Linked DNA regions of Homo sapiens: region 2 is linked to region 1. Evidence: fine-mapped expression QTL. A gene starts in region 1. The other region holds a variant in brackets. All regions are shown on one strand. Distances are from middle to middle. Region 1 holds the start of ZC3H7A (zinc finger CCCH-type containing 7A). Region 2 overlaps ZC3H7A (zinc finger CCCH-type containing 7A).

What was found. PIP is the estimated chance that this variant, and not a neighbour inherited with it, causes the effect. A credible set is the group of variants that fine-mapping cannot tell apart.
Region 2: its variant is the best candidate, but not a certain one, in a credible set for the expression of ZC3H7A in whole blood (TOPMed, PIP 0.68).

The regions. Positions count from the first base shown.
Region 1 is chr16:11,794,284-11,799,659 of GRCh38, forward strand. ZC3H7A (zinc finger CCCH-type containing 7A) reads right to left here and starts at 2,975. Exons shown (of 23, transcript NM_014153.4): 1 at 2,841-2,975. RefSeq lists silencers at 2,207-2,366, 2,849-3,258 and an enhancer at 2,674-3,211.
Region 2 is chr16:11,752,828-11,758,203 of GRCh38, forward strand. It overlaps ZC3H7A (zinc finger CCCH-type containing 7A), which reads right to left. Exons shown (of 23, transcript NM_014153.4): 21 at 3,410-3,543; 22 at 1-5. Among named protein-coding and RNA genes, the nearest start is that of TXNDC11-AS1, 13 kb to the left of the region's middle. The variant T/G (reference allele first, on the strand shown) is at 2,097.

The DNA of each region.
Region 1 (5,376 bases):
AAAACATAAAGCTTCCCGCTTTCTATTTGTGAAAAAGTAACCTCGTTGCTTTACATAAACGAAAATCACCTCATTTAATATGCCTTTTGTGTACATGTAAATTAAAACGTTATCACTAGCAGTAATTTTTAAACTTCTGGATTAATACTTTAATACTTCTCTCCTCCTTAAAAATTATCTAAAATTTCTTCTTGATTTGCCAACACCTCACACTTTAAGTAATTTTCATAAGGATTCTGGAGAAAAATATTTTCACTAGAAAAAAAACAAAACAAAACAGAACACTTCCAGACGTTATCCAGAAGACAAAAGTTTGCTCACATCATACTGTCTCTAGAAAGCCCTTTCTAGGGTATCTGTGGCAACAGGATACAGACGTCTTTTGTTTCTTTCTTCCTTTACTGAAATGCTCAAAACTTTCCAACAGTCACTCTCACCATCCCTGGAGTTGAGAGTTTCTATAATTGATTCTCTTCCACTTACAATGACAATTTAACCCACCCCAACTGGCAGGTTTTAAAATCAGTCAAAACTAAGAATTGTGGAACAATGTGGCTGACAAGCCACCATTCTTATTTGCAAAAACTGACAGAATCTGGGGAATGGGAAGGAAAGAGGGTGTAGGTCTGTGTAAAACCCCCAACGAAAAGTCACAGTAACATGAAGAAAGGCAGGAATTCTCCACTTCGTTTGGATGGCAGAAAATCAACGGGCTCTTTGTAGAATAAACACACACACACAAACACACACGCACAAATATTGATAATATTGAGCCTCAACAACTCATGATCTCATCCTGAGACAAACCTCATACAACTATTTGTAGCCTCCAGCATACAGCAGATAGGGAAAATTTTTCAACAGGGAAAATACTGTCCATTAACTTGAATTATTCTGCAAATTAGGACAAGACCCATTGTGCAATTCAGTTCAACAGTTTGGCTCAGTATGAGAAGGAAGAGGCAGTGGATTCTTTGAGAGCTTAAGGGAAGGAGGCCACATGCCATCAGAGAAGCAGGAAAGATAAGCAGATAGACATGTCTTCTCAGGGCCACCACCCATTCAGATGCCCCAGCTGCGCGCTGTCCAGTCGAAATATTGTACAAAATATATTACACAAAATAAGCCATACGTGTCATTGTATGTATGTATGTATGTACGCATGTATGTGGAGAGGGAGTCTCGCTCTGTTGCCCAGGGAGGAGTGCAGTGGCACAATCTCGGCTCACTGCAACCTCTGCCTCCCGGTTCAAACGATTCTCCTGCCTCAGCCTCCCCAGTAGCTGGGATTACAGGCGCCTGCCACCACGCCTGGCTGATTTTTGTATTTTTACTAGAGACGGGGTTTCTCCATGTTGGCCAGGCTGGTCTCGGAATTCCTGACCTCAGGTGATCCACACACCTCGGCCTCCCAAAGTGCTGGGATTACAGACGTTGAGCCACCCCGCCCGGCCCGTATATGTCATTTTAAATTTCCAAATAGCCACACTAAAAAAAGAGAAAAAGAAAAGCAGTGAGATTAACTTTTGTTTTTTTATTTGTTTGTTTTGAGACAGTGTCCCAGGCTGGAGCACAAAGGCACAATCTCAGCTCACCGAAGCCTCAATCTCCTGGGCTCAAGGGATTCTCCCACCCCAGCCTTCCGAGTAGCAGATTCTCCCACCTCAGCTTCCCGAGTAGCTGACTACCGGCGTGCGCCACCACGCCCAGTTAATTTTTTGTATTTTTTGTAGAGACAGGGGTCTCACTATGTTGCTGAGGCTGGTCTTGAACTCCTGCACTCAAACGATCCTCCTGCCTCAGCCTCCCAAAGTTTTGGGATGACAGGCATGAGCCACTGCATCCTGCCAAGATTAATTTTAATGATCTATTTTCGTTAATCCAATTTGTCCCAAACATGACCATCTCAACATGCATTTAAGTATAAAAGATTACCAATGACATCTTTTACTTTCTTTCTCATCCGAAGTTTTTAAAATCAGATGTACGTTTCACAGCTGGGACCGCAACTGAAACTGGCCCCATTTCGTGGGCTCCATCGTCCCAAACGGCGGGGGGTCAGTGGCCACCGTACTGGGCATGGCAAGGTCCTTCGTGGTTCAATACCGAACACGGGCAACTCCTTTTCATCCCTAGACAGGTGGGGACAGGAAAATACCCAACTCCTGGCAAATCCACCCAGTCCCGACTCAGGCTCGACCTCGGAGGCCCCGGCCGGGCCTCAGGCGGCCCCACCCCTTTGCTGCCCAGGCCTGACCGGAAGCCCCGCTAATGGGAACTGACAGGTCCCGGTCCCGGTCCTCCCGGGCGGCGCCCCCGCCTCCGCGGACCCCAAGGCCTCTCCCCGCCCGGCCCAGGGCTGCACCCCGCGCGAAAAAATAAAAAAATCAGAAAGGGGGGTAAAAAAGACGGATGAGCCCCAAATTAATGCGCCAAGCTCTCCGCCGGCATCCTTCCCGCCCCCAAGCCCAAGACGCTGAATCGGGATCCCCGCGATCACCAGAGCAGACAGAAATAACCAAAAAAAAAATTTTTTTTTAGTGAAATCACCAAAAAGGAGACATTTTGCCGAGGGAATGGCAGGCAGAAGTGGGTCACGTTATTCTCGGTGGGGGAAGGGGACGGCGCGCCCACCCGTCCCTCCGCGCGCACAGGCCCCGGCCCGGCTCCTCTCAGGGTCCTCTCGGGTCCGCGGGCCCCGGACCCCGCCGCCCCTCCCCCGCCCCGCCCGCCGTCCGTTAACGGCCGCGCGCGAGCACGAGGCGGCGGCGCGCGCGGGGGGGGCGGGGGCGCGGGCGCGCGCGTTTCCTTCATGCCCGGCGGCGTCCCCCTACCCCTACCTGTGGGGACGACGCGCCGGCCGGCGGCAGAAGGCAGGCGGAGGCGGGCGGCGGCAGGCGGGCAGCGGTGGCGGCGGCGGCGGCGGGGCCTGGGTGCTCGCTCGCAGCTCTCCCTCGGTTAGCGGCGGCGGCAGCGGCTCGGTTGCGCCCGCGGCGGCGCCCTCTAGCGGCGGGAGGCCGCGCTTGCCGCCCGGGAGACGCCGCCATTGGCTGCGCCGGAGCTACGGGCTGGGGGCGGTGGCGCCACGTCTGACTGGGGGCAGGGACCTGGGCGCGCCGTTCAATCCGGAGCCCCGGCGTCGACGCGCGGCCCACTGGGTGAGCCAATGGGAAGGCCACGTTGCGCACTGGACGCGCTCGGACTCAAGACTGATTAACCAGCACCGGGGTTTTCTGGGGCCTCGCCTGGGCCGCGGCCTGAGCAGAAGCGCTAGGAGGTAGAACAGCGTCCAGCGGGGAGAGGAGCTAGAGTCGGCATCGGGAAGCCCACCCTGGAGCCTGCTTAGCTTGACGAGCCCTCAACCGGGGCGCCCTGCTCTGCGAAGAGTAACCCTGCATCCTCAGAACAACCGTGATTGTCTTCATTCCTACATATGAGGAACGGAGGCGCGGAGCCCCACGGCAGCCGGGGATCCAAAGACAGCCTCCCTCCAGTTCCATCTGCCGGCTCTTGGAAGGCCTGGATCCCTGTCCTTCAGGGCCCAGCCCAAATGCCGCCTCGTCCATCTGCATTTTACGGCCAGGTGCCCCGCTGCGGGCACGGCTTCTTGTAAAATGCTCAGCTCAGCAGTGGGCGAGGCAGGGTCCCTGCCCCATGGGATGGAGGGCGGAGATCAGGACCCACAAGAGCCCAAAGAAGACCATTTTGGTCGGTGAAGACCAAAGAAATTCAAGCAGGAGGATGTGACAGGAGCTTTTGGGAAAGCCTCTGAGGAGGTGACAGCCATGCAACCGTGTTCGGGGAAGTGTGCCGCAGGCAGAGGGGAAATGAGTGCAAAAGCCCTGAAGCTGGAGTTCGGTGTCTGGATAACAGGAAAGGCCTGCATAGCTGATGTGTGCCAGAGGGGAGAAAGATCTGTGACACAGGGGGGCCGCCATGTTTAATTTGGAGTTTTGTGTGGAAGGGGGTCATTCATTGAGTCTGAATTGGGAGTTCCGAGGTCTCATTTATATTTTAGAAAGTTCTCTCCTGCTACTATGCAGAGATTGGGCTGTAGGAGAGACAAGAGGGGAAGTGGGGACTCTAGCTACAGTAGCTCTTCCAGGGGTCTGGGTGACGTAGATTTACAAACCAGAGTATTAGCTCAGGCTGCCATGACAAAATACCCCAGACCAGGCAGCTTAGACAACAGGAATTTATTTTCTCACAGTTTTAGAGGCTGCAAATCTAAGGTCTGGGTGCCGGCAGGGCTGGTTTCTGGTGAGGCCTCTCTCCCTGGCTTGCAAACAGCTGCCTTCTCACTGTGTCCTCCTATGACCTTTTCTCTGTGAGCAGGAATCCCTGGTGTGTCTTCCTTTTTCTTACAAGAACAACAATTTTACTAGATTAGGGCCCCACCCTATGACTTCATTTAACCCCAGTGACTACCTAAAAGGCCGTATTCAAATAGTCGTATTAGGCCAGGCGCAGTGGCTCACGCCTGTAATTCTAGCACTTTGGGAAGCCGAGGCAGATGGATTGCCTGAGCTCAGGAGTTGGAGACCAGCCTGGGCAACACAATGAGACCCCGTCTTTACTAAAATACAAAAAATTAGCCGGGCATGGCGACGTGCACATGTAATCCCAGCTACTCGGGAGGCTGAGGCAGGAGAATCGCTTGAACCTGGGAGGCAGAGGTTGCAGTGAGCTGAGATCGCGCCATTGCACTCCATATTGGGCGAGAGAGAGAGTCTGTACCAAAAAAAAAAAAAAAAGTATAAGGGTCCTATGACTTCATTTAACCCTAATGACTGCCTAATATGCCTAATAGCCATATTAGGGTTAGAGCTTCAACATACGGACTCCGGGGTGGGTATGTGCGGAGCGGGGAGCGTTTCAGTCCGTAACACCAGGTAAGTGCTGCAACAGATATTGGAGAGCTGATGGGCTGTGGTTTTAGGGAAGCTCCTCTAAGAAAGGGGTGGATTATACCGGGCGCACTGGCTCACATCTATAATCCCAGCACTTTGGGAGGCCGAGGCAGGGGGATCACGAGGTCAGAAGTTCAAGACCAGCTTGGCCAACATGGTGAAACCCTGTCTCTACTAAAAATACAAAAATTAGCCAAGCATGGAGGCAGGCGCCTGTAATCCCAGCTCCTGGGGAGGCTGAGGCAGGAGAATCACTTGAACCTGGGAGGTGGAGGTTGTGGTGAGTCGAGATCGCGCCACTGTACTCCAGCCTGGGCGACACAGCGAGACTCCGTCTCAAAACAAAATAAGAAAAAGAAAGGGGTGGATTATTCTCGTGACCAGAGGCTGCTCATCATTCAGGCCTCAACTACAGTAGCCTCTCTTGGAGAGGCCTTCACTGACAGCCCATCTAAAAGTTGCTCAC
Region 2 (5,376 bases), 41 kb before region 1:
TCCACCTAATGTGCAGCAAAGACACATGTCCCATTAGTCACCTGATGTGAGATCCAGACTCAATTCCAGGGAGCCCAGGCTGGTGGGAGAGCCAGGCAAGACATAAAACTCAGGTTAGAAATAGGGACAAGGAAAGGACCACAGCATGGGGAAGCAAGCCAGCACTCAGGACACAGAGAAGAAGGGTGACAAATGCTGCCAGCTGTCCAGGAAATCTCCGGTAAAGAGGCAATAGGAGCTGGTATGCAAACAAGGATGTTTGCTGGGAGAACAAGAGGCAGGTACAAACAAGGATTCAGGGAAGAACTAACACCATGAGGAAAAGCAGAAAGGATGAGAAAGACCAGGACATGCCAACTCCAAAAGGACGAGCAGCAGCTCCCTTCAGTGTACGTGAACTGAGCCACTGCTGTGGCATCAGGAATTTAAAGACACTGCCCCTGTGGGGAACAGACCTATACAAAAGGAAGTGTTATGAGGGGATTTAAGTGCTACAACAGATGCAAACTATAAGTGTTGGATAGTATTTCCCAAATGTCCTGGGCAATAATTATCTGCAACACTGGGTAAAAACAGATTTGAACTCATTCATTGTGGGGTATAAATGAAGACTTTTTATTACTTTATTTTTTTAGAGACATGGTCTCGCTGTCATCCAGGCTAGAGTATGGTGGTGCGATCATAGCTCACTGCAGCCTTGAACTCCTGGGCTCAAGTGGTCCTCCCACTTCAGCCTCCTGAGTGGCTAGGATTACAGGTGCAAGCCACCACGCCCAGCTCTAAGACTCCTTATTATGAAACACCCCAGGTAGGCCTTATTTATTTATTTGTTTATTTTTGAGACAGAGTCTCACTCTGTTGCTTAGGCTGGAGTGGAGTGATGCGATCTTGGCTCACTGCAACCTCCATCTCCCAGGTTTAAGCAATTCTCCTGCCTCAGCCTCCTAAGTAGCTGGGATTACAGGCACCTGCCACCATGCCCAGCTAATTGTTTGCATTTTTAGTGGAGAAGGGGTTTCACCAAGTTGGCCAAGCTGGTCTTGAACTCCTAACCTTAGGTGATCCACCTGCCTCGGCCTCCCAAATTGCTGGGATTACAGGCATGAACCACCATGCCCGGCCCCAGGTAAGCCTTATGATCCAACAAGTCGAGGTGACCTGCTCTAGAAACACCAAGGAGCAGTTGGGCGCAGTGGCTCATGCCTATAATCACAGCACTTTGGGAGGCCGAGGCAGGAGGAGTGCTTGAGCACAGGAGTTTCAGACTAGCGTGGGCAACATGGCAAAATCCCCATCTCTACAAAAAATACAAAAATTAGCCAGGCATGGTGGAGAGCACCTGCAGTCCTAGCTACTGAGGAGGCTGAGGTCGGAGGATCACCTGAGCCCAGGAGGTAGTGGCTGCAGTGAGCCATAACTGTGCCTCTGTACTCCGGCCTGGATGACAGAGTGAGACCCTGTCTCAAAAAAAAAAAAAAAAAGGAAGAAAAAAAAATATATATATATATATAATAAAATAAACACCAAGGAGCACTTAAGTAAAGGTAGCAAGGGAATCAATGTGACAAAGGTAAACATTCACAGGGCATGTCACAAGCAGAGAGACGCTGGGCAAGGCCAGGCCACACACAAGGCCTGCAATGGGCAATGAAACTGGATCTGACTGAATCAACAGAGAGACGGAGGTGCCAAAAAACAAGAAATAAGGGCAGTAACACATATGCTTATGTAAACTTTTAAAACCACATCAAGTGGAACTATAGATTATTTAAGAATAAATGTAGCTGGGCACGGTGGCTCACGCCTGTAATCCCAGCACTTTGGGAGGCTGAGGCGGGCAGATCACGCAAGGTCAGGAGTTTGAGACCAGCCTGACCAACATGGTGAAACTCCGTCTCTACTAAAAATACAAAAATTAGCCGTGCGTGGTGGCCGGCACCTGTAGTCCCAGCTACACGGGAGGCTGAGGCAGGAGAATTGCTTGAACCTGAGAGGCAGAGGTTGCAGTGAGCCAAGATCACATCATTGCACTCGTGCCTGGGCGACAGAGCGAGACTCCGTCTCACAAAAAAAAAAAAAAAAAAAAAGAATACATG[T/G]GTTGGCCGGGCACAGTGGCTCATGCCTGTAATCCCACGGTTTTGGAAGGCTGAGGCGGGTGGATCACAAGCTCAGGAGTTTGAGACCAGCCTGGCCAACATGGTGAAACCCCGTCTCTACCAAAAACACAAAAAATTAGCCGGGCGTGGTGGCAGGCGCCTATAATCCCTTGCTATTTAGAAGGCTGAGGCAGGAGAATCGCTTGAACCCGAGAGGCGGAGGTTGCAGTGAGCCAAGACTACCGCATTGCACTCCAGCCTGGGCAACAGAGTAAGACTCCATCTCAAAAAAAAAAAAAAAAATAGAATAAATGTGTCATCCTTAGGTAAACATGGCCTGGAAAAATACACACTGGATCTGTTCCCCTGGGGAGGGGAACATATGGGGTTCTAACTTTATCTGTGGCATTTATTTATTTTATAATAGGAACTACAACAAATTGTTAACATCAGTTAACTTGCGATGGTGGGCTCAAGATATTTGTTATAGTATCCTCTTCACTTTTTTGAAATTTTTAAAAGAAAACCAAAACAGTTAACAGACCACTGGTAACTTAATGTCCCCAAGAACCATAGAGGGAGAGGCCAGACTGCAGGCGTAAGCGGGGAATGTAAGGTCCAGCGGGGTAGACAGCCCACATTCCTGAGCCACCTGCTGGGGCCTCCCACTAGGGAAGAGTCACAGACTCCTCATACTTCACTAATCCATCAGGACAACCCCACTCGGAGACATAAATAATCTACCCAGGGTGCCAGGCAAGTAAGGAGAGAAACCAGGACTTGGACTTATGATTCTCTGGCTCCAAAGTCAGAAGGATTGAAGAAAGGATTTTTTCACATGAGGAGACTTAAGCTAGTGGCAGGAAACCACTAGAGAGAGAAGATGAAGACACAGAACAGAGAAGGGCAGGCAGTGAGTGACGGAGCCGGGTTTTGGAGAAGATGGGAAAGAAAAGAAAGGCCGGGCATGGTGGCTCACGCTTGTAATCCCAGCACTTTGGGAGGCCGAGGCAGGCAAATCACGAGGTCAGGAGTTCGAGACCATCCTGGCCAACATGGTGAAACTCCATCTCTACTAAAAATACAAAAATTAGCTGGGCGTGGTGGCGCGAGCCTATAATCCCAGCTACTTGGGAGGCTGAGGCAAGAGAATTGCTTGAACCAGGGAGGCGGAGGTTGCAGTGAGCTGAAATCACACCACTGCACTCCAGCCTGGTGACACAACGAGACTCCATCTCAAAAAAAAGAAAAGGGAAAAGAAAGGCTCCATCAATGGCTCGGCAAAGAGAGGGTAAATGACGCACGGTACTCACTGTAACTTCAGCATAATCTGTTGGCATGTGAATTTGTTTTCCATTTTCCTTGTTTGACTGACTGGCTATGTCTTCACTTTTTTCATTTTTTTGACTCTTGAGCCATAGTTCGTAAAATTGCTCCATATCTTGTACTAAAGAAAAATGAATTACTTTCAGCAGCAGCAACTAAACTCCATTTAAATACATGCAACTATGTGCATATTTTGTAGCAGTCAGCATACAGTTCAAAAGAAACTCAAGGGGGCTGAAGGAGACTATTATATTAGACATGGAGAGATCACCCAGTTCAAGCAGCAGGTAAACTCTCACGCATAAGAACTACTTTCAGGACTGTTAGATGGCAAATATTAGTTCTCAGGATTAATTAACCCCTCCCTGCATTTGCACGACACTTTGGGGATGTTTAAAACTCAGAAACCATTATAAACAGTATTGTCACAAAAGCCTCACCACTGCCTCTGTCGCCCTACGTTCCACACTCAGTGTCAGAGCTAGAACCACACAAGGCTACTTACGTGGCTTGGGGGACTTGGAGCTGATACACTCCTCACTGCTTACTGAGAAAGATGAGAAACATACTACTACTGGACCAAGATTCTGACCCTGATGGGAGTCCATCAGTCAAGCCACAGTCCCAGAGGGCGGATATGCTGGGCTGCAACTGACAAGACAACCATGACCAAGTCCTGGGCAGTGGCTGCCAGTTGCTTCCTATGGTAAGAACAGGTGTATTCTGCATTATTGCCAAGTGCTAAAGCTGAGGTTTCTCAGCCTCCATGTGGTTGACATTCTGGCTAGAGAATTCTTTGCTGGGGGTATGCCCTGTGCATTACAGGATGGTGAGTAGCATCCCTGGCCTCTGCCCACTAGATGCCTGAGCAACTTCTGCCAGTCATGACAATGAAAATATCTCCAGACATTGCCAAATGTCCACAGGGAAGGGGAGTGGCAAAATTTGTTCCCAGCCGGGCACGGTGGCTCACGCCTGTAATCCCAGCACTTTGGGAGGCTGAGGCGGGTGGATCACAAGGTCAGGAGATCGAGACCATCCTGGCTAACACGGTGAAACCCCGGCTCTACTAAAAATACAAAAAATTAGCCGGGTGTGGTGGCAGGCGCCTGTAGTCCCAGCTACTCGGGAAGCTGAGGCAGGAGAATGGTGTGAACCCGGGAGGCGGAGCTTGCAGTGACCCGAGATCACGCCACTGCACTCCAGCCTGGGTGACAAAGCGAGACTCTGTCTCAAAAAAAAAAAAAAAAAAAAAAAAAAAAATTTGTTCCCAGTTGAGAACCACTGTGCTAAAAACTCTGGTAATGAGGACCTGGTTAAAACTTGGCTTTGTTGTCTGCCTAATGGTTTCTAACAATGTATCATCAGGCAAAGATTAGAGATAAACTAGAAATGCTTCTTCCTTAAGACCAGTGGTGGCAGGAGTCATTGCAAAAGCCTGGTGCGCAAGGGCATCTTCAGTCAGGCCGGACTACATAGCCTCACTCCCAGCAAGACAGCTAGAGGGAATCCCGTCCACACACCACTGACGATCTATGTGGTTGAAACATGGCAGGCAACAGTCAAATCTGGTTGGTTCTTATAATCCAGAGACTGCAGTCAGTATACCTTTCATCAGTTTACTTAAGATTAAAGAATAATGATCCTTGTAGTAAAACATTTTATGGTCAAAAGTGAAAGGCTGTCTGCGGCTCCTCTCAAAGGCTCCCACAATAAACTTGGAATTTGACCAAAATAAACATTCTTTCCTTGGACCTCTGATTCTGAGCCTGTTTGATTAGTAATGCCTCCCTGAAGAAACTGCCAATTCTAACCTGGTTAATTCAGAGGGCAAACTATTTCCAATACGAGCAGATGATCTGATTTAAACAGTCAAGGGAGTACTGAACTTCCCCAGGCCATTTTTTAGGAATACATCTATTACATGTAAGGATGCATGCAGACCTATATATTT